Homo sapiens: one gene and its partners. The protein of the gene in region 2 purifies or fractionates together with the protein of the main gene of each other region. This does not show direct contact. Each region holds a gene or a part of one and is shown on either strand. Other genes may lie near its edges. The genes, in order: FRMD5, FAM234B, SLC47A1 and TRIM13.

The links.
Region 1: the proteins of FAM234B (region 2) and FRMD5 purify together in Homo sapiens (affinity purification with mass spectrometry; 3 studies listed by BioGRID and IntAct, with this or other methods). This does not show direct contact.
Region 3: the proteins of FAM234B (region 2) and SLC47A1 purify together in Homo sapiens (affinity purification with mass spectrometry; 2 studies listed by BioGRID and IntAct, with this or other methods). This does not show direct contact.
Region 4: the proteins of FAM234B (region 2) and TRIM13 purify together in Homo sapiens (affinity purification with mass spectrometry; 2 studies listed by BioGRID and IntAct, with this or other methods). This does not show direct contact.

What each region holds. Positions count from the first base shown.
Region 1 is NC_000015.10:44,192,141-44,199,327, forward strand, and holds the start of FRMD5 (FERM domain-containing protein 5), read right to left. Parts: upstream 3,132-7,187; 5' UTR 2,915-3,131; coding exon 2,813-2,914; intron 2,307-2,812; exon of another isoform or gene 2,087-2,306; intron 1-2,086. UniProt on the Homo sapiens protein: May be involved in regulation of cell migration. May regulate cell-matrix interactions via its interaction with ITGB5 and modifying ITGB5 cytoplasmic tail interactions such as with FERMT2 and TLN1.
Region 2 is NC_000012.12:13,061,380-13,068,646, reverse strand, and holds part of FAM234B (protein FAM234B), read right to left. Parts: intron 7,073-7,267; coding exon 6,884-7,072; intron 5,803-6,883; coding exon 5,672-5,802; intron 2,008-5,671; coding exon 1,860-2,007; intron 1,493-1,859; coding exon 1,351-1,492; intron 344-1,350; coding exon 200-343; intron 18-199; coding exon 1-17.
Region 3 is NC_000017.11:19,529,015-19,536,861, forward strand, and holds the start of SLC47A1 (multidrug and toxin extrusion protein 1), read left to right. Parts: upstream 1-4,839; 5' UTR 4,840-4,925; coding exon 4,926-5,060; intron 5,061-7,847.
Region 4 is NC_000013.11:50,006,811-50,014,077, reverse strand, and holds part of TRIM13 (E3 ubiquitin-protein ligase TRIM13), read right to left. Parts: intron 2,144-7,267; coding exon of another isoform or gene 2,138-2,143; coding exon 914-2,137; 3' UTR 1-913. UniProt on the Homo sapiens protein: Endoplasmic reticulum (ER) membrane anchored E3 ligase involved in the retrotranslocation and turnover of membrane and secretory proteins from the ER through a set of processes named ER-associated degradation (ERAD).

The DNA of each region.
Region 1 (7,187 bases), on a different chromosome or scaffold from region 2:
ATAGTCTGGTAACTGTGGCAACCTTCATTGAAAAGATATAAGGCATTTTCATTACCTTAATAATTACATCCTAAATGCCAGATCGGAATAAATGCTGCATTATGAAAGGATAGACAAATACTTTGACAGAATTTCTTATAACTGAAATTTACCAAATGGAACTATCATGACTCCAACCCAGTGATACATTTCTGATTCTGTAATATCCTAAGTAGTCTCTGATTATGCTAAGGCAGTAAAATCATTCTAAAATAGATACTTTATTTAAACAAAAATATGGCATACAACACTTTAAGGAAAATGAGTTCAAATTATCACCATAAAATATACAGTGCTACAATGCCTAAAATGTTGGGAATATTGCTTAACCTAATAAGAAGTTCACAGATCCTTTCCATACTGATTTAAAAGATCCTATGCCCAGTATTTAACAAATAAGCACATGCACATATACACACACACTCACTACAGAAATGCATGAAGGGAAAAGCTGATAAGAAAAGCTCAATTTCTAAATGTTCAAAAAAGCTACATGCAGAAAATGTTAATTTCATATAAGATACTGTCTTTTTGCTACATTTCCTCACATGGGTAAAAACAAAAGCAATTCGCCAAAGTGATGCCAAAGAATGACAACATTACATATACTTAACAATCCCTGTGTTCTTTAGATTCCATGCAAAAATCACAATGCACAATCATTAACATGTCTAGACAGTGGACACTTACTACAGTGTGGCCATATTACACCAAGCTTAATTTTTTAGGTGGCCTAGATATTTTATAAAATTAAATTGTAATAATGTAAAATGAGAGCAGTAGGAAAATAAGTACAGCTATAGTGGGATATAGCAAGCACAAATCCAATAAGTCCTATTTAACTCAAAAATATTTTTTTTCTAAATGGTAATAAAAACTACCCACAATTATAATACCAATCAAGCAACCTCAAAGGTTCCACTAACTGGGAAAAAAATAACTATTTGCCTCACTGCAATACTTTAAAACCACAAGGTTAACAATCATTTCTAGCGAAATGGTGATGTGAATTGTGTTTTATTTGTATTCTACACCTTGGCAAAAGTTAATGACCTGCCTCGGAAATTATTTCACATACCCCAAAAGTATTCTTAGGACTTATAAAGTCTAAATCTCACACTCCCCTTGATATGCTATTGGATAAATGCTTTAAATTTTAAAACAAAAGGATAAAGACTTTTAAAAAGCTCTAGACAATATACTCAAATGGTGAAGATATCAACTCAATGTATTCTCATACCCCAGCAAAACAAAAAAAGCAAAAAAAAACTGGACATGGCACAATGATACAATAGGAACAAAAAGTAGTATTCCACTCATTCAGCAAGGAAATAATACAGAGCATCTCTCTATCATATTCAACTACAAAAATCCTTTCACTTGATGGCTAGCATCTTTATGACTGCTTAGTCTGTATTTAAGTAGCCTTAAAAAGAGATTTTGTGCTCTTTCTCTACCCTCATGGATCTTTGGCAGCAGTCAGCACTTATGCCCAGAGCTGGTTTCGAGGGGAGGGAGAAAAGGGAAAGTGAGGAGAAGGCTGAACTGAGCACGGAGTCAGCAGAGACCAGCTGCTCTCATACACTACCCAGTGTCTTTCTCACACACCGCTATTTTCCGCGATTGAGCACTGTCAGCAAAAATAAATAAATAAGGAGGCGGGGGGCAAGAAGACACTGAGGGTAGGACCCAGGCCGACAGTTTTTGTCTGTCACATCTGAGCCAGAAGCCTCCTCCTGTTTTCCTGCTGCAAAGGCAAAGGATCAGGTGAGACCCCTCTGGGTCCAGCTCAATTAGCTTCTCCACAAAGAGCAGCTTCCGGCGATGAGCGCAGGATCCTCCTGGCTGATGAACTAAACACGGGAGCATTGTCAATGTTTTCAATCTCTGACTTTTTCATAAGGGAGGAGAGAGGGCTGTGACTGCATTCCCGGGAAAGACTACTACTCCTGACGTGCACACAGCAGTAGCGAAGGAACATGAGCAAGAGGTTGTAAAAATCCCTTCAAAAATACCAGGTTCTGAAAGAAATGCTGTTGAGCATTACCGTATTGTTGGCGTTTTTCCTAAGTCGCCGATTCTTCCTGGCCACTTCCAAGCCCCAAATCGCTGGGACTTGTTGCTAAATCTTTACCTCACGTCCCCTAGAACCGCCCAACACAATAAAATTTGGGGATCAAAAGGCGGGAGGGGGCCTAAATCTCTAAAACCCAGAGGACTGGGCTTCCTTCAATAGGCCACTCCGCATGGGCTGCGCGTTCAGTTCTACCTTCTGAAAGCTCTGACTCACAAATGGTGGGGGGAGGAATTATGACATAAACCATTATCCTTCCAACCCAAGAAAGATAAGAAAAGCCAGCCATACGTCCTTGCCCGGGCAGAGAGCCAAAGCCTGCGCCCCCGACGGGGCGGCCGGGCTAGGAGCCTACCGCCCTACCCGCCTCCCTCCGGGCGCCCCGGAAAGGTGCACCTTACTCGGGCGGGCTCGAGGAACCAGGACGGGGCGCCCTCACCCAGGGAGAGCAGGGTAGGACTTAGGGGTGTGGGACGCGGAGACTCGCCCCGCGGCGGCGGTGACACACCGGGTGCCAGGGCTCCGGCAGGGGCTCCGGTGAAGACGCCCTGCACTAGGGCGGTCCGCCGCAACCAGGAACGGACAAAGCACGGCGCTGGGGCTGGGGCGACCCCTGGGCGGCGGCCGCCGCCGGCCAAGTTGACCAGACTTGGGGGACAAGGGGGTCCCGCGGGCGGGGCGGGGCGGCGCGGCGCTGACCTGGATGGTGCAGGTGTACTCGCTGTCGTCCAGCAGCCGCACGGTGCAGCTGTACTCGCGCTCCAGGCTCCTGCTGCTGCCGCTCATCAACCTGCTCAGCATCTTCCCGCCCGCCCGCCCGGGAGCGACGCGGCGGCGCTGCGGACCCTGGACCAGGCGTCCCTCAGCCCGGCAGCTCCGCACCGACCCCAGGCACCTGCACCATCACCCCGGCCCCGTCGCTGCCGTTGCCTCCTGCTGGCCTCGTTCCTCCTCCTTATCCTCCTCCTTCCCTCAGCCGCCACCGCCTCCCCCCAGCCCAGATCAAGCGCCGGGCTCTGTCTCCTCGGCGCCCCAGTGCCCGTGCCCAGCTCGCGGGGCGGGGCCTCAACTGGAGGGGGCCAATGGGGGTCAGCGCGGCGGAACCGAGTGGCAGACCGAAAAGCCAATCGAGATAGAGTACTGGGATGATGGGCGGGATAAAGAAGCAATCACAGAAAAGCAGTCGGACCTAGTCAAGCCGGAGCAGCCCTCTAGCGTCCCAAACGAGGGGTTCCTCTCCGCCCCGTGGTTCCTATGGATGCTGTTTCCCCTCCCCCGGGCCAGGTGTGAGCACCCAACTGGATTGATGTCTGCCGCCTGAAATACACTTGATCTGCGTTTCCGAAGCCAAGCCTCGCACCCTGCAACACCGCGGTTCCCGCCCTCTTGGGAGCCGGAGCGAGGAGGCGGCAGGGTGCTGGATCACAGTCCCTGCACCTGCAGAATGCGGATACCTCTCGCTCCAGATAGGGCGACTGCCCCCGACCTGTGCTGTACCCTAAGTTGGCCCGTCTGGCCTCTGTGCTCCAGCCCTCTTATTTTGGGAAACAGGAGCTACTTAAATAAAAGCTAAAGGGACCTCAGAGGTTCTGAAGTACCCAGGTTTAATCCCCTAAAAAACCCTCCACTCTAACACCCTTTGCCTCCTTTTTATTTCAGAAGACAAAAGGAGACTGCTCCTTCAGCTGGTAGGGAGCAGAGGAAGCAATGAATCTTCTCCTTGCACTTTTAGAACTGGAAATTATGTCTTCAGACTTTCTCAATAGAACAACATAGTATGTCAGGAGGTATACATCACAAAGAATTGTCTCCTTCTCTTTGTCACCCCAAATTTACAGACTTCAAGGTTTTTTACCAGAACTTCAATAAGAGATATTCTCCCTCAAAGATTTTTGATGTGAGGAAATGTTATAAAATAATTATGTCGGCCGGGCGCAGTGGCTCAAGCCTGTAATCCCAGCACTTTGGGAGGCCGAGGCGGGCGGATCACCTGATGTCAGGAGTTCGAAACCAGCCTGACCAACATGGTGAATCCCCGTCTCTACTAAAAATACAAAAAAATTAGCCGTGCATGGTAGCACGCACCTGTAATCCCAGCTACTCGGGAGGCTGAGGCAGGAGAATCGCTTGAACCCAGGAGGCAGAGGTTGCAGTGAACCAAGATCACGGCCATTGCACTCCAGCCTGGGGGACAAGAGCAAGCCACCGTCTCAAAAAAAAAAAATAATCGTGTCAACATAGAACATTAATGCTGTAATAAATATATTAATTTAAAATAATGAAATAGGCATAATTTCCTATTACTTTCATTTGCACTGTTCTTGTTTATAGGTATAATGTGTAACAAAAATGAAACTCTACATTAGCCTAGAAAACTATCCCGCCTTTAAAGTATGCTTCTTCCCTAGTGTCTTTGGATTCCAATATTTTCCCCAATTTTTTTTTTTTTTTTTGCATGGGGAGATTCATTCTCTTTCATTCTCTCTCTCTCTCTCTCTTTCTCTCTCTCTCTCTCTCTCTCTTCCTCCCCCTCTCCCTCCCCCTTTTTCTTTCTATCACCTTAGTAACCTGGACTGCTCTTAATTGGTTGCATTCTCCTTTGTGGCATTTAATAGCCATAGGAGCAGGATTCTCTTTTCAATGCAATTTGGATGGAGTTAGTTATGAGTCTAGAACTAGTAAGTCAAGTGTTCCAGGCATAAAACCAGGCATGCGCTCCACTACTTTGTAGCTTCAGCAGGTAGTCTGATGCCTGAAACATAATAGGTATTCAATAAGTGTTGAACTGAATACAAAAATTAGCCGGGTGTGGTGGCATGCGCCCGTGGTCCCAGCTACTGGGGAGGCTGAGGCAGGAGAATCGCTGGAACCCGGGAGGTAGAGATTGCAGTGAGCTGAGATTGTGCCACTGCACTCCAGCCTGGGCAACAGAGCAAGACTCGGTCTAAAAAAAAAAAAATTGATGAACTGAAGTAAATGGAATTGACAGGTGTTCTACAGCACTTAAATCCCAGAGGAAGAAGACCTGTGAAGAAACTCAAAATTTCAGGAAGATCTTGGAGACAAGTAAAATTATTAATATGCCAAAGTGATATTCTACAAAGCTCAGCTTTGTTATGTAGCTGTAAGAAGATAATGAAATATTTCAGGCTGGGCGCAGTGGCTCACACCTGTAATCCCAGTACTTTAGGAGGCCGAGGTGGGTGGATCACGAGGTCAGGAGTTCAAGACCAGCCTGGCCATCATGGTGAAACCCTGTCTCTACTGAAAATACAAAAATGAGCCGGGCATGGTGGCATGTGTCTGTAGTCTCAGCTACTCAGGAGGCTGAGGCAGGAGATTTGCTTGAACCTGGGAGGCGAAGGTTGCAGTGAGCTGAGATTGGCCACTGCACTCCAGCCTGGGAGACAGCGAGACTCCATCTCAAAAAAAAAAAAAAAAAAAAGAAAGAAAGGAAAAAAAATTCAAACTGAAAGAGCTTTTGTTGAAGGCAAAAGTTACTGTTTGTTATAGAATCAACAAGAGCAAGAAAAAATGTCCAAGCTAGAGGAAGTCCATAAGTGTGATGGTAGGAAAGTGTTTTTAACAGGTTATCCAAATAAGCAGCTGTTAGAATGAAAAGGCAAAGCACTATGAATCCAGAAAAGCTCTAAGGAACTGAATGCAGTCTTTTTTCGAAGTATGGCCATAGTTGCAATCAACAGAGGTGAGACTGTATTTCCTATGTCAATGTGTTAAGTAGAATCCTTGCTCAGTCTGAGAAAATCATGTCTGAGGCTGGGTGCAGTGGCTCATGCCTATAATCCCAACATTTGGGAAGCCAAGGCAGGCAGATCGCTTGAGCTCAGGATTTCAAGACCCACCTAGGCAACATGGTGAAACCCCATAGCTACAATAATAATAATAATAATAATACAAAGATTAGCTGGGTGTGGTGGCACACACCTGTAGTCCCAGCTGCTGGGGAGGCTGAGGTGGGAGGATTGCTTGAGCCTAGGGGGAGGGGAAGGTTGCTGTGAGCCAAGATCACACCACTGCACTCCAGCCTGGGCAACAGAGCCAGATCCTGTCTCAAAAAAAAAAAAAAAAAGGAATTAAAAAAAATCACATCTGCTTAGATGCTCACCTCACCGAAAGACCAGTTAGATATTCATTCATGCTTAGGTGTAATATCCAGAGAGAACTTCAAACTCTCCCTTCTTCTCTGATACAAAACACTTTGTGAGGAATACAGAGAATGAAAAAATAATGGAAGAAAAGCAAGAATCTAGATGTATGTCTCCACAAAAAAGCTCATGAGAAGAAGCATAAGGAGAACTAGAAAGGAAGGGCTCATATAAAACCAAACTGAATTTTGGGAGACTGGGCAGAAGAATCAATTGAGCCAGGAGCTATGACTGCATCACTGCACTCCAGCCTGGACAACAGAGCAAGACCTTGTCTCCAAATAAAATAAAAAGTAAAACCAAACAGAAATATTTTGTTTATCTTTGTTTTCCTCAAATCTATTAACTAGGATGCCCAGAATGGAAAGGGCTTATTTAATAAAAGGCCTTATTTGCCCTTGAGAACCAGCGTGCCATAGCTTTCATGTGTCTTTAAGTATAAAGGAGGCCACATTTAAAAATAAGAATCCAAATTATAATGGCTCTGAACCCCCACCTTCCAAATTATCAGAATATCAGCCGTCTTTTGAATTTCTTTTCCTTCTCTACTATGAGGGAGTCCCCAGGGGAGGTACTATCCCCCACGTATGCCTGAAAAAACTAAACAAAGCATTTCGTGTCTCTGCTTCAGATATTCTATACCCTGCTGTTCTGGGACACTGGTCTCTCTCTTTAGCCAATGCAACCTTCACCATTTCTTTAGATTTTGGCAGGAAGGAGTACTGCCCTCTCTTCACCAAGACATGACAAACACAGGCCCTTCCCATCAAAGTTTCCCCCAACACAGCTAAGACCAAGCTATAACTCCTAACAATATTTAGGAAAAAAAGAATAATCTGAAGTGTAACTTGGACGTATGACATAGCTACTTTCAAAGCCTCATGGACTATGGATTAGATACAGGCCTG
Region 2 (7,267 bases):
ATCCAGGAGTAGGCTGGCTGCAAATAAGGACAAAGTAAGCAATCAATAGTGAACAAGAAAAACAGGAAAACTAAGAACTCTCCCTCCCTTCTCTTGCACTGGCCCCAGATATAAGAATTGCAAGCAATTGTCCTGGACAATTTTTAAACATGGGAAAGTGGATCAAAACAGCAAACACAAGAAGGAACACAATGCAAACCTGCGCAGGCCTTGAAGTCTCAATGCCCAGTAAGGTGTCAGATTTTGCCCCCGAAGCAGCACAAGGCTTTGTCTGGTTGTAATCAGAAGGTTGCTGCAGTTGGAATCTGGTGCCTTCACCATCTGGAGTAGTTCAACACCATCACTGGGTTAAATAAGACCCCAACGGTTAGTCTCTGGCTTGGATGAGATTTCTGAGCCATTTACTTTGGCTTTTTCTCTCAGTATACGTACACCTGTACACACTCTTGTATTCATGCCCCACCATTATCTCATCAAGTGGGATGTACTGTTGTTTCAGTTGAATCTCATTTTCTTGACCTTAGAAACCAAGGATCCCCAGAAAATTCCATACAAGTTCAAAAGGAACTCACAGGAAAAGTGCTACAGTGCAATATCTCTCACACTGGATACTCTGGGAAAGGCAACAGAGCCAAGGATAATCACAGGGAAGGCAGACAGAGATCTGGACAGGAGGCCAGAGGTTGCCAATGAGCTTGGGCAGCAGCCCATGGCATACATTTCACTGAATTAGTTCTTGCTCAGTGCCACTGGGACCATTCTACTTCATACCTGTCAAAGTCACCAAAACACCATGATACTGCCTAAGAAAATGCTAGAAAATGATTTGGAACTTCTGGTAGGAAAGAATGAAACAATTATTAGCCAGGCTTGGGGTTAAATGGGTAAAATCCCCTGCATGTGACAAACTACATGCTTCTAGTTAGGAAATAAATAAAAATAAAAAATAAGATTTCATGGACACTATCCTTGCTTCTGTCAAAATGATGCTTCAACTAAGAGAAAAATACAGAAAAGAGTAGGTCAGATCCTTCAGCACAGTTTCACAAACAGTTAGATAAGTCTATCTCCCTCCCTACTCTGACTCAGAGCCCTAAGTATCCTTCCTTGCATCCTACCTGAGGAGTGATCACATGTGGTCACCAACACATAGATATCAACGCATTATGTTACCAAGAGAAGAAAATTTCTAACTCATGTTAACCAGATCAGAAGATGGTAAATTAAGATAAGCACTGTTTCCCCTAAACCTCTACCCACATATTCACCAGCCCAACCAAACTTAGAGACTCAAAGGCATGTGAGTTCACAAGAGATCTCACTGTGACCAAGGACAGACGTCTGCCCTACCTGTAAACATCAATGAGCTCAGACAGGTTGATGGATCTTCGCTTTTCCCATTCTGGCTCTTCTATCTGCAGAGAAGGTGGTGAGCTGTCTCGATTTTGGGCCTGAACAAAAATGTCCCGCAGTGCGACAGCTTGTATATTTCCTAGCACCACAGAAGAACCAACACTGAGAAGTTGAATTTAACAGAACTGTCCCATGGTGAGGATCTGAGCAAGAGACACAGAGCCTGACCAGATGGGTCTAACAGAGCCCGCCCAGACTGGACAACACGGAACAAGTGGGGAGGTGATTAAGTGGGTGCTGGACAAGAGTCTTCCCTTCAGAGGAGGCAGCAAGGGAAGGCAGAGTTAATAGCCTGTGATCGGTGGGGGACAGTAAGAGGCCCCTGCATTAGAAGGCTATGGGAAGGCTGGTGTCAGGAGTTCCTGAGCTTTCACCCTGTCTCACAAGGAAGGCCTCATCACAAATGCCAGTGGGGAACAGGAGCAAAAACTAGCCTTGCTTCTTACCAAAGCCAAACAGGATGTAGACAGCCCCATTTGTGGTGATGTAAACCTGAGGACCAATCAGATTCCCAACTCCAACGATGTTGTACTTCACAGGTCGACCCACTGGATTTCCGGTCCGGCCAGACACCAGCAGAAAGCACAGATCTGGCTGAGGAAGTAAGAGAGGGGGGTGGAGTCAATAGAAGCCCTATCGTTTGCTAATGAAATGGCTTCTCCAGACAGTCACTGCCTCCTCATAAGCCACGGGCTCAGAAACACTCCCCCAAGTTGGAAAGCACAAAGCCAAACCTGCTTCGCTTTATTTCCCTGCAAGTAAGCAAGTGAAGCAAATGTCCCATTGCCTCACTAGAGCCAGGCAAAGGGCATCTTCAAAGCACCTCAGACAGCTACTCTGAAGCAGAATTGTTGCTTGCTGAATAGTCTCCTGAGGCACAGAATTCTAGCCTACAGCTTAACATAGGATGGCTGGCCCCTGGGTCTTTACTTCAATACCAGAAATCCCCAGTAATATTTGGTTCCAGCTAGAGTTAATCGAGGCAGTGCTCTCCCATCAGAACACCAGATGTCGGGCCTGGACACCATCAACTTTATTCTCAAAGAGAGAACAGCAAACTTTTTCTGTGAAGGGTCAAATAGTATATATTTTAGCCTTTGCCAGCTAGATGATCTCTGTAGCAACTATTCTACTCTGCTGTTCTTGTGTGAAAGCAGTCATAAATAACACATAAATGAATGGGTGTGAGGATGTTCCAATAAAGCTCTATTTATAAAAACAAGTAGTGGGCCAAATTTAACCTACAAGCCACAGTTGCCAACTTCAGCTCTAGAGGATTTCTTTTGGGGTAGAGTCACCAGTTAAGAAATATGAGGATTTTACTGATATCTTGACTTCAGTAAAGCTTTTGACAAAGTTTATCATCATGAACTCTATGGACAAGATAAAGAAATGTGGTTTGCCATGTACCAGGAAAAGGTACTTATGGGATCAATACTAGCCTAGAGGGAGGTTTTTAGAGGAATGTCATAGCACTGTGCTATTGCCCCATTCCTATTAAACATTCTTATCAAAGACTTGAAAGAATAGAATTCAAGTTTATCACAAAGCTGAGAGGGATAGCTAATATGGCATATGACAAACTCAAAATTCAAAAAAACCTTAGGCTGGAAGATGAGTCAAAATCTGCCACAAAAAAATAAACTGGTCTATTAATAATTAATCATTAAAAGATATAGGTACTTTAGCTGATTACAAACAGAAAGCAAATCTTAGAAAAAATATTATTATCTTTGGCTGCAAAAACAGAAATACAGAGTCTACATCAAAATAAGAAACAATTCCCTTAGGTTGATATATTAATTATACTACAAATAAAATGCTGTTTTTAGATATAAGTACCACATTTTAAAAGAGATTTGGACATACTAGAATGCAAAGGGAAAGAAATCAAGAAAAAGAGGGGTTTGGACTTCCTGGTTGCATGAGGAACAGTACGAGAAATGGGGATATTTAGTCCTGAGTAGCAAGCTTAGAGGGACTAGGCTAATGGTTAAAGGGCTTTCCTATAGAAAGGGGATTAGACTCATTCACAGTAGCTCTATGGGAATGAAGCTGGAACAATGAGTGGAAGCTATGAGAAAGCAGATTTCTTTCTGCTTAGGACAGAATTTTCTGGAGCTGGCCCAAAAATGAAATGGATCGCCTCACAAATTAGTGTTATTCCCATCAGCCTGAGTGCACCAAGAGAGTAGGGGTGCCAACATGTCTGTAATGCTGAACCAGAGATCATAGCATGGTGTGAGAAAGTTAACCAAATGGTCTTCAAGGTCCCTTCCCACTAATGTTCTAGACCTTATCAGTTCCTGTAATCAAAAACCAGGTCCAGTTCTCCAAGCCCACTTCACTCTAAACCCAGATCAATGAACGCAATCACTATAAGTCACAGACTTAGGTTTCCTTCCTTGTGAAGAGAGAGTCTTCCATCTCAGGAGCTTATACAGGTTCCTGGGGTCCCTTGTTGCTGGCAGAGAGGTCAAAAGAGGTCAGTACAAGGATGAAGCTGCTGCGCTATATACCTAGTGCCTCTACAAGGTTTTCCTAGAACTGTCTACCACTTTTCAAGCAGAACTGAGACTATGCCCTAGCTGTACCCTATTGTGAAAACAAGTAAATTCTGTAGGGCAAGATGGGCAATACACTGAGTAGAGACCAACACAAAGGGCACAGAGTAAGAGTGGGCAAGAAGCCACTTCCTCCAGTGGAGACCTCCTTACTATGGAGGGTCCCCAAGGGCCTGAGCCACTATCCTGCCAACCACCACCAGCTAATAAGCGGCCAGACGGGATGGTTAGACCAAGATTTCTAAATTCAATCACGACTTAAAAACTTGTTCAATGGCTTGCCGTGTCTCCCCATATGTTCCCTTCAAAGAATTGCTCCCTGATGGAAGTAATAATTCAAATTTTCCCTAGTCCCCAATCTCTCTATTCACAATGGCTAGGATAAAAAAGATTACATGAATAATTCCTGAATCCTTGGTTCGGGTCCACTTTGAGACCAACTGGCTAGCTGAAGAAAACGAACATAAAGTACCCTTAAAGCTTAAAACCCTTAAAACTAAGTAGGCTTCAGAAATTTAGCTCATTCTGGATCTTGCCTTTATCTTGCAAATGTGAGGGAGAGTTTAGTGTGCTAGAGCAGTGCTCCTCAAAACTCATGACTGATGGGGCACTCTTAAGTTTGGGGGACTCTTGGCAGAAAGCCACAAAATCTTAACAGATTTCATTCCATTCTACATAATTTCACCTCCAGAATTTACAACTCTACTCCATATATGCAATACAAAGATCACAACAGCAAACACAAGGTCTATTAAAATTAAAATAGGTTATCAAATGAGACAAAATTAGCCATATCCACATTTTTCCACAAACATTCTTTGCCGATTGTTTGACTCTTTTGTGCACAAGCATTTCCTTGGCAGACACACTAGGAAGTCTGAGAAAAAGTCTTAGAGAAACTTTGACAAAAGCTCTGAAAAACGCTTCCAGAATAAAAACTTAAAATTGAGATTATTCTGTTCATTAATTTATTCCTTCCTGTGATTTGGGGGAAAGACTACTCTTATTTTATCTGTGTGCAGAGTAACCAGTACACTGAAGTTCCTGCAAATCATAATTTAGGACCATAATTCAAGGGCCACTGTCCTGAATCAAAGTCTGCCTTGTCACAGCCTAGATTATGACACTCCTTTCTTTGGTCATTGTTGTTATTATTGCTTGACTTAGATTTTTTCCTATGTATCTTTTATGAACTTTGTATCAGCCTGTTCTGTTGTTTTATAATTGACATAAAATGTACATATATATAATACAGTAAAACTAAAAATACATATACACAGCAAAAATTAGGCACTACTCTAGGCACTTTAAATATGTTAGCTGTAATTTTCATAACAATGATGTAAGTAGATATAACATGCCTTTTTTACATATGAAGAAACCAGAGCTTGGACAGGCTCCACGGCTTGCCCAAGGCCTCAAAGATATAAAGTGGTAGAGGTGGAATTCGCATACAGACCTAACTAACTCTAAAGCTCCACTACACCCCAGTCCATGGAGCCATGAGGCTGCCAGAGAAAATGGGTTCATAATGGTCAAGTATTCACTTAACCTCACAAAGAGAATTTACTTAAACCTAAACCCTTGTAAAAAGAACATTTCAAGCAGCATTTATAATGTAACACTAGGAGCTGAGACAACTAAAATAGAAGCAGTCCCTATAAGAAACAAAAAACATTTAATAGAGATCATACCTGCAATTCCCCAATGGCCAGAACCACAAGGTCTCGAACACCGTCTTCATCCAAGTCTGGCAGTACCACAACTGGGGCAGCCAAGGTACCGTTGGACAAGTAGTTTGGGTTTAAAGTCCAAATGGCTTTCCCTGAGGAAGGACACATAGGCTGGTCACTATGACAACTTCTTGCCTTTGGAAAAGGCAGATGCCATGTTCCCAGGCCAGAAAAGAAAGACGCAAGGGGCTGAACAACAGACAGCAACTCCTACCTACTTATTGCCTTTCGTTTTTGTCTTACTGAGGAGGAGGAAGCAGGCAGTGTGATCCGAATCCTAAAGTATCTGGCAAACAAATCCATGCAATGATTTCTCACCTAGATTTTTTTAGATAAAATGGAGGTGCTAAATCCTTTCCAACAAAGAAGGGCTCACTTGCCTGGGGTGAGGGAACTGTCTGTTAGAGATTATAACAACTATTAAGGAACCCCCAGGGGCAGCCGACCAGACCACTCTGCTTCCTTCCCCCACACGGTCACATAAGTAAGCACCACAGCATCATAGGAAGTTTTCCAGATGGCTTCAGTTCTACAGTTAACTCAAATCCCAGTTTTTTTCACTCAGAAGCACCCCGCGACCAAACTCCAACCTCTAAACCTGGGAAGGATGTTATTTATTCCGCTCCACGTGAGCACACGGCCCAGCAGTACTAAGCCTATGGGCCATATACTTAGGATTCTATAAGAGCCTTCAGGACATGTTATTCTTTTTCATTCCCTTTTGTCATGTATGTCTGAATGCAGTAAGAAGCTAAAAGGCCAGTCAACAAGCCTCAACAAACCTTTATTTCTTCACTGACGTATTTTTTTAAGTAGTTAATGCCAAATTTACACATGGCCCCCATGTATACCAAATATGAAGAATTAAAGTTCAGTCGTCTTTTGTACAAAGAACAGAGTTGGGAGACTATTTACACACCAAAGGCCTCAGGGTAGTTTCTGTTTGGGTAATTCAGTTCCAGCCCCATCCTATCACCAAACAGGTTGAACCATGGATCTGTTTACTCAATCTGCCCAAACCTTTTCTCTCATTTCTCTTAATAACCATATTCCAGATCAGTAAATCAGATACTCCACCACGTGAGAGTCAAAAGGTCCCCTACCCAACAGATTATTCTAATCCAAAAGTATGGCTCGTAGGAGCAAAGTTCTTTTGTGGTAAATGGTATTTACCTGACGTTGCATTGAATGCGCTGAGCATCTTGTGTGTCCCTGTCACAAGGCAGATGGTTTCAGCCAAGCTTCCTGGCATCAGCTCCAAACATGTGATATCTCGAGCCTCCTCAGGGAGAAGACTAGACCACAGTGTGCTGCCATTCATCCCCGAAAGGCATACAAGATTAGCAGCTGGTCTTGAGACACCTAAAAGCACACAAGAGAGATAAAAAAAGGAAAGCAGGCAAAGGAGATAAGAGGCAGAGATGAACAAGAGGCCAGAAAACTGCAAGTGGATGGTGGTAAGGCAGCAACCACACTTGTGTATTCAGCTCCCTCTCACACTTCTGGCAGCAAGATGTGAACACAGAGTGCCTGTCATCTTTGCTGAACACGCTTCTC
Region 3 (7,847 bases), on a different chromosome or scaffold from region 2:
AATCTGGGAGGTGGAGGTTGCAGTGAGCTGAGATCGTGCCATTGCACTCTGCACTCCAGCCTGGGCGACAGAGTGAGACTCCATCTCAAAAAAAAAAAAAAAAAAAAGAGAGAGAGAGAGAGAATTGGAGTGGATTGGAGTTTTCACCTGTAATGTATAACGCTAGAAGCATGGGAATGTGTAAAATATCATGACCGCAAACATTCAGAAAGCACACGCCACAATATCCTGAGAAAGTACCCACTAGAAAATGAAAAGCTAATCAGAATTTAAAATTACAGGGAAGATACAGACGTGGTCAGAACATGGTGAGTATGAGATGCTGAATAAGGCCTCCCAAAGATGTCCCCATCCATCTACTGAAACCTGTGAATACATAACCTTGCATGGCAAAAGGACTTGGAGATGTGATTACTACAAGGATCTTAAGATGCAAAGGTTATCCTGGGTTATCGGGTGGGCCTAATGGAATCTCTTTTTCTGAGAGGAAGACAAGAGAGTAAAAGCTGGAAAAAGGAGACGTGATGAAAGAACAGAGGCTGCAGTGATGTGCTTTGGAGATGGAGGAAGAGGGAGGCGGCATCTAGAAGCAGGAACAGGCAAGGGAATGGATTCTTCCTGAGCCCTAGCAAGAACGCAGCTCTGCTGACACCTTGATTTCAGCCTCACGGAACCCATTTCAGGCTTCTGACCTCTGTTAAATAGTAACTTTGTGTTATCATAAGCTATTAAATTTGTGGTAATTTGTTACAGCAGCAATCAATAAACACTTATCATGAATGACCAAAATTAATTCAAGAAGAGGTTAAACAAAACCCTGAATAGACCAGCAACTTCTAAATAAACAGAAAACCTTTTATTTTTTTTCTTATTTTTAAATAAAATACCCCTTCTATAAAGGCATCAGATGGTCCTCTAGGTGAGTGGCCTTCAAACCTTCAAGAAACAGATCATTCTTATGGTATTTGAATAATTACAGAGCCTAAAGATTCACGGAAGCCAGGCGCAGCAGCTCACGCCTGTAATCCCAGCACTTTGGGAGGCCAAGGCAGGAGGACTGCTTGAGCCTAGGATTTCAAGACCAGCCTGGGCAACATAGTGAGACCCCTGTCTGTATAAAAATAAATAAATATAAAAATCCTGAATATAATATTAGCAATAAATCTACCACTATATACCTGTTATAGTATACTATTATGAATAAGGGAAGTTTATTCCAGGAATCAGTGACAGCTAAACATTAGGAAATCTACAATGAACTTACACTAACAACCGAAAAGAGAAGAAAAATTTGATTATTTCAATTAATACTAAATATATATATATATATATAGAGCACAGTGGCTCATGCCTGTAATCCCAGCACTCTTGGAGGCCAAGGCAGGAGGATCACTTTGAGCTCAGGAGTTTGAGACCAGCCTAGGCAATATAGTGAGACCTCTTTGTCTCTATAAAAAATATGAAAATAGGCTGGGCATGGTGCCTCATGCCTGTAATCCCAGCACTTTGGGAGGCCAAGGCAGGTGGATTACCTGAGGTTGAGACCAGCCTGACCAACAAGGAGAAACCCCAACTCTACTAAAAAAAAAAAAATTCAAAATTAGTCGGGTGTGGTGGCACATGCCTGTAATCCCAGCTACTCGGGAGGCTGAGGCAGGTGAGTTGCTTGAACCCAGGAGGCAGAGGTTGCGGTGAGCCAAGATCGCACAATTGCACTCCAGCCTGGACAACAAGAGTGAAACTCTGTCTCAAAAAAAAAAAAAAAAAAAAAAAGGAACAAGAAAACAAAATTAGCCGGGTGTGGTGGCACATGCCTGTAGTCCCAGCTCTTCAGGAGGCTAAGGTGGGAGAATTGCTTGAGCCAGGGAGGTCGAAGCTGCTTTGAGCCGAGATCAAACCATTGCATTCCAGTCCAGGCGACAGAGAGAGACCCTGTCCCCCCGAAAAGAAAAAAAAAAAACCCTGATAAAATTCAATTTTAATACATGCTTTTAATAATATATTTCAGCAAGTTAAGAACCGTATATGAACATACTTATGACTATTTATCAAGCATCAATAACAAATTCATCATATCCCTAGTCCAGTGAGTCTCCCATTCCCTAGATGAGTACTGATTAGACTAGGGATATGATTGAAATAGAAGACAGAATTTTAACGAGGTGCATTCTTTCTGAATAAATCTGCAGATATAATGCAATGTCAATCAAAATCCTAACACTTTCCAAGTAACAGGGTTCTTTGTTCTTTTAATTGTTTTGTTTTTTGTTTTTTATTGAGATAGGGTCTCACTCTGCTGCCCAGGCTGGAGTGCTGTAGTGCAATCATAGCTCACTGCAGCCTCAAACTGCGGGGCTCAGTCGATCCTGTCACCTCAGCCTCCCAAAGTGCTGGGGCTACAGGTGTGGGCTACTCACCTGTACAATGTGCTCAGCCAACCACACGTTGTTTTAAAAGCTATTTACCAGCCAATAGAGCTACTTCTTTCCTCCTTACTTTTCTTTTTCAGAGTTTTTGTTATATCTTTTCCTGTTTACACTATCAATTGCTTTTAGAATCATTCTATTAAATTTTAAAATAATGGAATACACAGTAGTGGACTAAAACCTAATATATTAATTGAAAATTAATTTTCCTGTGCTACTTTTTGGAAGGAAGTCACTGTGTACAATCCACCTTTAAGGAGTGAGGAGTTATGCTCTGTATCACGAGGACCTTTTGTTTTTTGTTGCTATTGTGAAAGATTTCTTTTAGTATTTTCATATATGTTATTACCAATATAAAGGACTGATATGACTTGTTGAAGAACTTCTATGTAGCAACTTTATTAAACCCCTTTATCAATTCTATTAGCTTTTGTTCATATTTTATTTCTTTGGGTTGTGTGGATTTTTTTTAAGAGATGGGGTCTCACTGTGTTGCCCAGGCTGGTCTCAAAACTCCTGGGTTCCAGTGATCCTCCCACCTCGGCCTTCCAAAGTGTTGGGATTATAGGCATGAGCCACTGTGCCTGGCCCGGTCTGTCAATTTCTACTGTGAGTAATCCCTTTGCCTTTTCTTTCCTAACATTATACATTACATTTCCATTTCCTGTCTTATTACATCAGTCAGGACTTCCAGAAAATTATCAAAAAACAGCAGTGATCAGAGATCTAGTGAATATCCTCGGGTATTTGTCTGTTGACACTCTCAGTTCTTTTGGGAAACTGCGCTACTCCATATGTACAGTCCTTGTGGGACGAGACCAGTCACAGGGCACCTAACCCTAACCCTGTAGGTTCAAAGCTGGGTGCATGGTCCAGGGCCAGCCAAACATCAGACCCTATTTTCCCACCCAGGGCGATTGTTCCAGAGGTGGGCAAGAAACCTAAGCAGGGCCAACCAGATTTTCTCCCAGTTTTTTGTTTGTTAGTTTGGAACCAGAAGAGAGGAGGGGAGGGCCTTACTTTCTGGTTTAACAGACGGGAAAGATAGGAACGAGGGTATCAGAGGCCACCACTGTCACTTGCACAGGAAGAGAAAGGCTGCCGGCAGAGGAGGAAGAGAAACTACGGAAAGAATCCCAAGGGGCGAGGAGAAGGGAGGAGAGGGACAGAGATGGGAAGAGGGACAACAAGAATGATCTGGTTTTGTTTTTTTTTTTTTTTTGAGTGGAGTCTCCCTCTGCCACCAGGCTGGAGTGCAGTGGCGAGATCTCGGCTCACTGCAACCTCTGCCTCCCGGGTTCAAGCAATTCTCCTGCCTCAGCCTCCCTAGTAGCTGGGATTATGGCGCGCGCCACCATGCACAGCTAATTTTCGGTACAGACGGTGTTTCACCATGTTGGCCAGGATGGTCTCGATCTCTTGACCTTGTGATCCGCCCGCCTAGGCCTCCCAAAGTGCTGGGATTACAGGCGTGAGCCACCGCGCCTGGCCTAATGACCTTGTTTTCAAATCCCTGAATCCAAACTTCCTGATTATGTGAGCCAAAAAATTTGTTTTCCATTTTCTCTACTTACATTGGATCATTACAACGGAAGGAATTTTGACTATTAGAGAAATCAATCTTGTCCTGGTAACTGACACTTATTAGGTAACGGCTGGTGCCAGGCTGAGGGCAGGTGGCACTGACTCCGGTCCTCCGCCCAGGCAACCCCAGTCTTCACAGCTGGCGACGAGTGTTCTTTCACGTTTGCAGATGAGGAAGCTGAGGCTCTGGGAGGAAAGCGCGCTGCTCCTGCCCTTCTGGGCCGCAGCCTCTCGTACTCCCACAGCAGGCTTGATGGATAAACTTCCAACACGACCAGCTGGCACAAACTGTGCTACTTGGCAAATGGGAGCATGTTGCTCTATCCTGGTAGATTCTAAGTTCTCTAATGGAACAACTGATGAGAGGAGAGGAGTATGCAACACCCTAACCAGCATCAAAGGGTGTACCCAACTCAATCTGCACAGCAAATGCGCCCAACCCCACACACCCCGCGGGGTGCTAACCGAGTCACGGCTCGAGGCCTCTGGGTCCTTCCACGCCAGGTCATTCAGAACCTGAAACCCCCAGCGGAGGTGGAGAGCCGGGGTGAGTCCTGGCGTCCGAGACGTGGAGGACCCAGCCCCCGGAGCGCGTTCCGTTAGTTTACAGAGCTTTTTCAAACTTTGCCTTCCAAGTGCAGGAGTTCCTTGGTCTTTGCAAGACCCGCAGGCGTCCGCAGTGGTGCAGAGAGAGGTGCAAGGGGCGCGCCCAAGGTCGCAGGCTGCCTGGCTGCGCGCTCAGTCGGGCCCCCGGGCGCCAGGCGCGGGGCGGGCTCTGGGCGGGCGGCCGGGGCGGGGACTGCAGAGCAGGCTGCACTGCGCGGTACCCACTGCCGGCCTGCGCGGTACTCACTGCCGGCCTCCGCGGTACCCACTGCCGGCCTCCGCGCTACCCGGCCGCAGCGCGCGAGTCACATGGAAGCTCCTGAGGAGCCCGCGCCAGTGCGCGGAGGCCCGGAGGCCACCCTTGAGGTCCGTGGGTCGCGCTGCTTGCGGCTGTCCGCCTTCCGAGAAGAGCTGCGGGCGCTCTTGGTCCTGGCTGGCCCCGCGGTGAGTAAGGTGGCCTCAGTGGCAGGCCGGTACCGGCGGGCTGGGGACCTGGTGATTTCTGCCTCCGCGGGTGACTTTGGCGGGCTTTGGGGACCGAGCGAGCTGTCCGCCGGCGGGCTCCGGGGAGCATCGTGCCAGGAGCCGGGCGGGCACCCCAGCTCCTCTGCCTGCGTCCCGGCCGCTTTCCGCTCCGCACCACCCGACTGGGGGCCCCGCGGGGCACTGCGGGAACGGCTGGTACGCGCCCGGGCGCATGTTGGCTCGGAGAGGCCGGCGGCTCCAGCCTCCTGCGCCAGGAGACACCGGAGAGCTGGGACCTTTGCCCCTAACGGGGCTCTACCAGGTCCAGGCTGCATTTGCATCCGGGGGTGCCTTCTCTGGGAGCTGATTCCGGCCAATAAAACGCAAGTTGCCTGAACTTCAAAACACAAGGGAACTTGTTTCTTTGAAAAGTAGCGGTCAAAAGTTCGGGAGCTCTGCGATCTAAATAATCCCGAGGCACGGAGGAGGGGGTGCGTGGTCTGTCGTGGACTCAGAGCTGCGAAATGATTTCTTCAGAATTCAGTCAACCTCTACCGAGGAAACCAGAGGCATCCTGTACCACCCCCTCCCCGCCAGTAATTATGTATGTGAAAGAAAAAAGGGGTTTTAATGTGGTTCTTTGTGGGGTCGAGGTGTTCTTATCTGTGGGATTCTTTTCTTTTTAATCATTAGGTTAGGGCTGTTTCTGCCTTGTCTCCTAAAAATAATGTGGTTTTAAAAACCACAAAAACACAATCCTATCCACGTTCTCCTGCCAGCTTGGGTGGTTTTCAAACCGAGAGGGTAGGACGCGGCACAAGAAGCAACTGGTATGCACTTAAGGCGTGAATAAGCTTTTGACTTTGAGGCCCACATTCTGCACCTGCGCGGGCTGAGGGGGGCCGCTGTGCCTCTGGAGTGGGGGCTCGGTAGTTTGTGGGATATTGTGGCACCCGCTGTGGTGTGCAGGACAGCAAGGGTAATGCCGAGGTCAAAGCCATGGAATAAGATCCATCAGCCATGCTTTCTCACAGACCAGAAAGAACTCATGATTTGGGGCTGGGCGCGGTGGTTCACGCCTGTAATCCCAGCACTTTGGGAGGCTGAGGCAGATGGATCACTTGAGGTCAGGAGTTCGAGACCAGCCTGGCCAATATGGTGAAACTCCGTCTCTACTAAAAATACAAAAATTAGCCAGACGTGGTGGCGGGCGCCTGTAGTGCCAGCTACTCCAGAGGCTGAGGCACGAGAATCGCTTGAACCTGGGAAGTGGAGGTTACAGTGAGCCAGGATGGTGCCACTGCACTCCAGCCTGAACAACAGAGTAAGACTTGGTCTCAAAAAACAAAACAAAACAAAACAAAAACACCTCATGGCTGGGCGTGGTGGCTCACGTCTGTAATCCCAGCACTTTGGGAGGCCAAGGCAGGCGGATCACGAGGTCAAGAGATTGAGACCATCCTGGCCAACCTGGTGAAACCCCGTCTATACTAAAAATACAAAAAATAAAAAATAAAAATTAGCTGGGCATGGTGGCAGGCGCCTGTAATTCCAGCTACTTGGGAGGCTGAGGCAGGAGAACCGCTTGAACCCGGGAGGCGGAGGTTGCAGTGAGCCCAGATCGCGCCATTGCACTCCAGCCTGGGCAAAAAAACACCTCATGATTTGGAATCTCAAGACCTGGGGCTGCGTGCCCTGCTTTGACCTCCGAAAGTAAGTCAGGAAGCAGCTGTGCAGATTGAAACAGCCTCCTAACCTCTTCTGGTCTCTGCATATTCATTTGTAAAATGGAGATAATAATCATGTCTTGGTTCAACACTCCCTCACAGAGCTGCTGTGAGAAGGGGCTTTCTAAGGCTATTATTGTTTTATTATTATTATTATTTTTTGAGACAGGGTCTTGATCTGTCGGCCAGGCTGGAGTGCAGTGGTGTGATCACAGCTCACTGCAGCCTCAACTTCTGGAGTAGCGGAGATTACAGGCACACACCACCATGCCTGGCTAATTTTTGTATTTTGGGTTAGAGATAGGGTCTCCCTGTGTTGCCCATTGCTTGAATTCCTGGGCTAAAGCAATCCTCCTGCCTCGGCCTCCCAAGAGCTGGGATTATAAGCATAAGCCACCTTGCCCAGCCTGTTATTGCTTTAATAGTATAGCAATAATAATAATAATAATAATAATAATAACAGGGCAGGTTTCTGAAATCCAGCCCTCCCAGTAGCCTGATCCCCTTGATGTGGGGGACCTCTCCAGGTCTCCAGGGATGAGCACTAGACTGACATGCTGGGGACCTCACCTTTTCTCTTTGTATGTACATATATGTATACCATTGTGTTTATTACAAATGTCATGCATATTTACTGTAGAAAAAAATAGAAAACCAAGACCAACAATAGGAAAAAACCCTCTGAAATCTCACCGCTGAGAGGTAATTTGGGAGCTTTCCTTCTAGTCCTTTGTGTGTGTGTGTCTCTGCTTTGTGAAAATGTGATTGTAGAGTTTTGCTACCTGCTTAGTCTCTCATGAAGTGTATGTGGACCGGCCTGGGTCTGTCTCCCATCTCTAATCCCATCTGCTATAAAGTTTTCTGTTTACTAAAGGGCATGGGATAAGGAGAGACCACCCCCTTCTTTTCCCATGCTCATTGTCCAATACTTTCTTCTCCAAGTGTCCAACATAACATGAGGAAGATGCCCTGTCTGGCTCTCCTCTCTGTAATTTTCTCTCTCATTTGCCATCTCCCTTCCAGACCTCTCAAGTTAACC
Region 4 (7,267 bases), on a different chromosome or scaffold from region 2:
TGAAAGCTCCACTCTCCTAAAAATGTAAACTTATCACAAGAAAATGCCAGGTTTTGTATGTACCATTCACATTTTGGTGATAATTAACTCTCTGTAGAAAATTTTGGAAATCTAATTAATTAGTACCTTCAATACCTTTAGTTGTCTCCCACACACGCGTGTGTGTGTGAAATCTTCTACAATATCTTCCCTTTTTTAGACCATGTTCACTGTCAAAAAGGTGCTTTAAGAGCAGTCTTTGGCTGGGCACGGTGGCTCACACCTGTAATCCCAGCACTTTGGGAGGCCGAGGCAGGCGGATCACGAGGTCAGGAGATCAAGACCATCTTGGCTAACAGGATGGTCTTAAGGGACAGTGAAACCCTGTCTCAACTAAAAATACAAAAAATTAGCTGGGCGTGGTGGCACGCGCCTGTAATCCCAGCTACTCAGGAGGCTAAGGCAGGATAATCACTTGAACCTGGGAGGTAGAGGCTGCAGTGAGCCAAGATTGCATCACTGCACTCCAGCCTGGGCGACAGAGCAAGACTCCATCTCAAAAAAAAAAAAAAAAAAAAAAGTGATCTTTACTGCATGCTTGAAGAACAATCACTACTATACTACCTATACTTCCATCAATACAATATTAGATCATATGATCTCTCACCTATTTTTATCACAGCATAAATACAACCAACATTTGGGGTGGATGCTTATTTCAAAAGCACTCTTTTAAACAAAAAAAGGTTCAGGCCTATACTACTAAATTTCACTTTTATCTTTATGCTACCTAATTTGAACATGTATAGATTATTTTTGGAAGGAATACTTTTGGAGGAAAATATGTGACTAGAATCGTTGACCAAATCTGAATTACCACTCTCTATTCTCTAACAATTTCTAACAAAAGAAAACTGCATACTTGAAACAGATTTTATAATAGTTTATATTTGCACACAAATTCTGCCACATTGTTCAGTACCACCAAAGTAAAATTCTTGAATCTTTCATTGAAAATGAAAAACCCATCTGTCACCTGTTCCCAGTAAAAAACTGATTGTTCTATGAAATCGGCTGTTTTAGTCAGATAGGAACTGAAGTTTGAAAGACAGCCTTTCCAAGTTGCCAGGTCATCAAATAATGACCATTCTAGGAACATGGTAGGACCAAAGACAATGACAAGGCCAAGCAGAAGGATTAGCAAAAATAACTTATAAAAGCTCCAGGGAATCTTGCTAATGAATGTGCCAGTGTCTTGAGGCAAAGAAAGTTTATCCACATCGACTAGTTTTATGTCTTCCCACTGACTGGTATCAAAGTTCTTCATTAAAGGGCTTGCAGGCAAATTAGAGGGAGGTAAAGGAGTTTCCTTGATTACTTTGATTTTCTCTCTAAACTCCTGCATCTGTTGCAGAAATACAATGGGTTCTGACACATCTTTGAAAGCCTCAGCAATGTTAAAGGCCATCCGTTGCTCCTGCAAGATGGTGTTGAGTTTGTTGATCTCTGGGTCATATGCTTGCATAACAGCAAGTTTCATGGTCTCAAAGTCAGACAGAATTTCATTCTTCTTTTGATCCAGTGTGTGTTGTAACTTCTCAAAAAATTCCTTCACTTTATCTGAATCTTTAGTCAGTAACTGTAGGGATTTCCTCTTACTAGTTTCCAAGGTATCCAAGCGAGAAAGAGCATCTCCCCGACGCCAGGTCTCAAAGCTCTGGAAGAGGGACTCAAAGGCATCCCTTTCCTGAGCATAGGCATCTTCAATAGAACAGAAGACATGTTTGGTGTGCTCCCCACGAGTAGCACAGATCCCACAAATCAGCTGCATATCAGTCAGGCAGAAAATGTTGAGAGGCTGCCCCAAGTGTCCTTTGCATACTGGCATTTTGGGAGAGATCTTGATCTTGTTATACTTTTCCACAATACCCTTCAGGGAGTAATTAACCTGCAGGCTATTAATTCCAGTAGCTGAAGTTTCCTTACGGCATGTAGGACACTTGAATGGAGCTGGTCTCCACAAGGAATTCCGCACACTCCCTTCTAAGATACCTTCTAAGCATTTTTTGCAGAAGTTGTGGGAGCAAGGCAAAACCCGTGGATCATCAAACAGACTACAACAAATAGGGCATGTGAGATCTTCTTCAAGCAGCTCCATCACATCCTACCAGAAAAAAAAAAAATTATTTTACTCCAATAACCGTCACCACTAGGACTATGTAATAATTAGAAGAAATCTGCCTTCACGTTAAAATGATTTTTCACTGAAATAACCAGCCAAACAAAGTAGTGAGAAATTTGGTAAGGGAATGCACACCAAAGCAAATTTAATCCACTGAGACTAGAACATGCTCCTTTAATAGTAGGGCATCCTATACACAAGGCCTTTGTGTGGGCTTTCCAACAACAGTCTTTGGCTAAGACAAGACTCAGGACTAGGACAACTGCAAGTTGAGCCAGCAGGACCCAAGCAATTGTTTTAAAACAGAGCTGACTACTGACAAAAACAAGGCTATTCAGTGTCTGTAACAGAATGAGCTCTTTACTCTGGGCCCACAAATATGAAATGGTATGTTATATAAAAGAAAGAAGCACAGAAATATAAATCCAAACATGTACTCTCATGTAGACTTTATTATGAATTGGCATATTTTTGTTTCAAAGGCAAGATTACAATTTTTAAAATCACAGGTAAAAGCACAAGATGAGAGTTGCAATTCACTCTTCTAGGTAGAGAACTAAATGAGGTTTTTTGTTGTTTTTAAACCACCAGAACAGTAACAGAAGCCATTTTGTATTATCTAGAATCATCAATTTTCACAATGTGGTGGGCAGAAACCTGGATGTCCCTCTTTCAGGGCATCTGTGAGATCAAAACTATTTTCGTAATGACACTAAGATGTTACTTGCTTTTTGCACCATGTCAACATTTGTACCAATGGTGTAAAAGCAATGGTGTGTAGACACTGCTGAAGCCTTAGGAGGGATCGAGCAAAGCTGTAAGAAGCGCTGAATTGTATTCTTCATCACCACCCAAATTGGGGTTGGAGTACCGGTTTCACTTAAGAATGTTCTTGATGCAGCAGTAAAAATTATTCATTTTATTAAGTCTTGAGCCTGTGTACAGTTTTTTAATATATTGCGTGACAAAATAGGCAGTACGCACAAAGCACTTCTGCATACCGGCAGATGTTGTCTGGAGAAAAAGCACTTAAGTGAAGAGCGGCAAGTTAAACCAGCTGCTTTTTTTCATGGAACACCATTTTTACCTTCTGAAAGAACAAATGATAAACTATGGCTATTCAGACTTAGCTACCTGACATTTTCTGGGGAAAAAAAATGAGCTTGCTACTTCAAAGAAAACAATTGACAGTATCTCTTGCTAATGAAAAGGCTGGGTTTTATGTAAAAATTAGAATTTTGGAAAACATTTGATATTTATGAGCCTGACAGCTTCCCATTAATTAAAGACTTTTATGATGAGATGGGCAGTGATATTAATGAATGTGAGGATTTTCTGAGGGGAAAGGAGTACTGTATAATGAAATGTGTCAATATTTGGAGATCTGCAAAACACAGTGAATACTATTTCAAGTCACTAATGCATGTTACAAATCAGGCATGGGTAAAAGATCCATTTGAAGTTCACGAAAGACCAACAGGTTCATAAACAATTTCAGATTCCATACTCCAACAAAGAAACTAGCACTTGCTGAGTTTTTGTATAGTATCACAAGAAGATTCAGGCTGGGAGCAGTGGCTCACGCCTGTAATCCTAACACTCTGGAAGGCTGCAGAGAGTGGACCGCTTGACCTCAGGAGTTCACGACCAGTACGGGCAACATAGCAAAACTCCACCTCTACAAAAAAAATACCAAAAAAATTAGCCAGCCATGGTGGCATGCGCCTGTAGTCCCAACTACTCGGGAGGCTGAGGTATGAGAATCCCTTGAGCCCAGGAGGCAGAGGCTGCAGTGAGCCGAGATAGCACCACTGCACTCCAGCCTGGGCAACAGAGAGAGACCTTGCCTCAGGAAAAAAAAAAAAAAAAAAAAAAAGATTAAATTACCTGAAAAGGCTATTTAAATAATATTCCTTCCTTTACCAACTACATATCTGTGTAAGCCTAGATTTTTGTGTATTTCCTTTTCTTTTCTTTTTTTCTTAAGAGATGGGGTGTCTCACTCTGTCACCCAAGCTGGAGTGCACTGGCATGATCATAGCTCACTGCAGCCTTGAAATACTGGGCTCAAGTGAGATCCTCCCAAGTAACTACAGACTGCAGGTGTGCACCACCATGCCTTGCTAATTTTTAGTTTTAGTGTTTTTTGTTGTTGTTGTTTTTTTTTTTTTTTTTTTTTTGAGACGGAGTCTGACTCTGTCACCCAGGCTGGAGTGCAGTGGTGCTATCTTGGCTCACTGCAACCTCCACCTCCCGAGTTCAAGTGATTCTCCTGCCTCAGCCTCCCAAGTAGCTGGGCCTACAGGCACATACCACCACACGCAGGTAATTTTTGTATTTTTAGTAGAAACGGGGTTTCACCACGTTGGCCAGGCTGGTCTTGAACTCCTGACCTCAGGTGATCCATCCGCCTCAGCCTCCCAAAGTGCTGGGATTACAGGCGTGAGCCACCGCGCCTGGCCGTGGATTTTTTTATAGACAGGGTCTCACTATGTTGCCCAGGCAGGTCTAGAAATCCAGCCCTCAGGCAATCGTCCCACCTCCACCTCCCAAAGTGCTGGAATTACAGGCATGAGCCACCACACCCAGCCTTCTTCGTTTATTTCAACCAAAATAATATATTCCAACAGGTTAAATACAGAAGCAGACAAAAGACTCCAGCTGTCTTCTATTAAATAGCCATTCATTACAGGCCTCTATTGCAATGCCATGCTTCTCTTAATTTTGTTTTGGAAAATAGTTATTTTCCTAAATTATTTGTTAACTTGTAATGGGTTTATCATTGTTATTTTACGTGAGTATTTTTTAAAAATTGTTTTAATTTCTAATAGAGTAAATATCGACAGTACAAACATAAAGTTCTTGGGATTCTCTTTTTTTTTTTTTTTTTTTTTTTGAGACAGCTTTTTCACCCAGGCTGGAGTACAGCAGTGCAATCTCAGTCCCCTGCAACTTCTGCCTCTTGGACTCAAGCCATCCTCCTGCCTCAACCTCCAAGTAGCTGGGACTACAGGCACGCACCATCACACTCAGCTAATTTTTTTTTTCTTTGTAGTTTTTTTTTGTAGAGATGAGGTCTCACCATATTGCCTAGGCTAGTCTCAAATTGCTGGGCTCAAGTGATCCTCCCACCTCAGACTGCCAAAACACTGAGATTACAGGCCAGGATTCTCAATTTTTAAGAGTGTAAAAGTGTCCTAAGACCAAAATATTTGAGATCCCTAATACAGGCAATACCATTTCTCAATGCAGGTTTATTATTTTTAATTCTTATTTTGAGAGACAGGGTCTTGCTCTGTTGTCCAGGCTGGACTACAGTGGCCTAATTATAGCTTACTGCAGCCTCAAACTTCTGGGCTCAAGCAATCCTCCTGCCTCAGATTCCTAAGTAGCTAAGACTACAGGCATGCACCACCACGCCTGGCTACTTTTTTTTTTGTAGAGACCAGGTCTTACTAGCTGGCCTCAAGCAATCCTCCTGCCTCAGCCTCGCAAAGCACTGAGATCACAGGTGTGAGCCACTGCATCAGGCCACAAGTTTATTTTAAATATACATTCATCTCTATAGTTGTAAAACCAAAGAGTACTACATATTTCTACATTCAGTTTACTCAGGGATATATGCACATATCACATTATCAACAATATCACATTATCAACAATAACATATGACTTAATCGGTAGGCCATCTATGATAAAAAGTGAATACTTGGCCGGGCACGGGTGGCTCATGCCTGTAATCCCAGCACTTTGGGAGGCCGAGGCAGGCGGATCACGAGGTCAGGAGATCAAGACCATCCTGGCTAACACAGTAAAACCCCGTCTCTACTAAAAATACAAAAAAATTAGCTGGGCGTGGTGGCAGGCACCTGTAGTTCCAGCTACTTGGGAGGCTGAGGCAGGAGAATGGTGTGACCCCAGGAGGCAGAGCTTGCAGTTAGCCGAGACAGCGCCACTGCACTCCAGCCTGGGCAACACAGCAATACTCTGTCTCAAAAAAAAAAAAGCGAATACTTTTTTAACAGTAATTTCAACAGCCATACATGACTGGACTATATCTAGAAGGTAAACAGTATTTAAAGGACAAGCTGAGCTTGCAGGGTTAATTAGTTTATGGCTTTTTTTTTTTTTTTTGAGACTAAGTCTCACTCTTGTCACCCAGGCTGGAGTGCAATGGTGTGATCTTGGCTCACTGCAACCTCCGCCTCCCGGGTTCAAGCAATTCTCCTGCCTCAGCCTCCAGAGTAGCTGGGATTTACAGGCACCTGCCACCACGCCCAGCTAATTTTTGTATTTTTAGTAGAAACGGGGTTTCACCATGTTGGCCAAGCTGGTCTCAAACTCCTGACCCCAGGCAATCCACCCGCCTCCCAAACTGCTGGGATTACAGGGGTGAGCCACCGTGCCTGGCGTTTTTTTTTTTTTTTTGAGACAGAGTCTCACTGTTGCCCAGGCTGGGGTGCAGTGGTGCAATCTCGGCTCACTGCAATCTCTGCTGCCCAGGTTCAAGCAATTCTCCTGCCTCAGCCTCCCGAGTAGCTGGGATTACAGGCACCGGCCACCACGCCCGGCTAATTTTGTTGTATTTTTAATAGACACGGGGTTTCACCATCTTGGACAGGCTGGTCTTGAACTCCTGACCTCATGATCCACCTGCCTCAGCCTCCCAAAGTGCTGGGATTATAGGCGTGAGCCACCACGCTGGGCCCTATTTTTTTGGGTTTTTTTTTTTTTGAGACAGAGTCTCACTTCGTCACCCAGGCTGGAGTGCAGTGGCACAATCTCGGCTCACTGCAACCTCTGCCTCCCGGGTTCAAGCGGTTCCTCTGCCTCAGCCTCCTGAGTAGCTGGGAACTACAGGCGCCCACCACCATGCCCAGCTAACTTTTGTATTTTTTGCTGGAGACAGGGTTTCACCATGTTGCCCAGGCTGGTCTCAACCTCCTGACCTCGGGTGATCCGCCCACCTCAGCCTCCCAGAGTGCTGGGATTACAGGTGTGAGCCACCACGCCCAGCCAGTTTATGGTTTTATAGTAGATTGTAAGATACATGTATTTATAATACATAACATAGGGAGAACTAAAGCAAAGATTATTCTGTCTCAA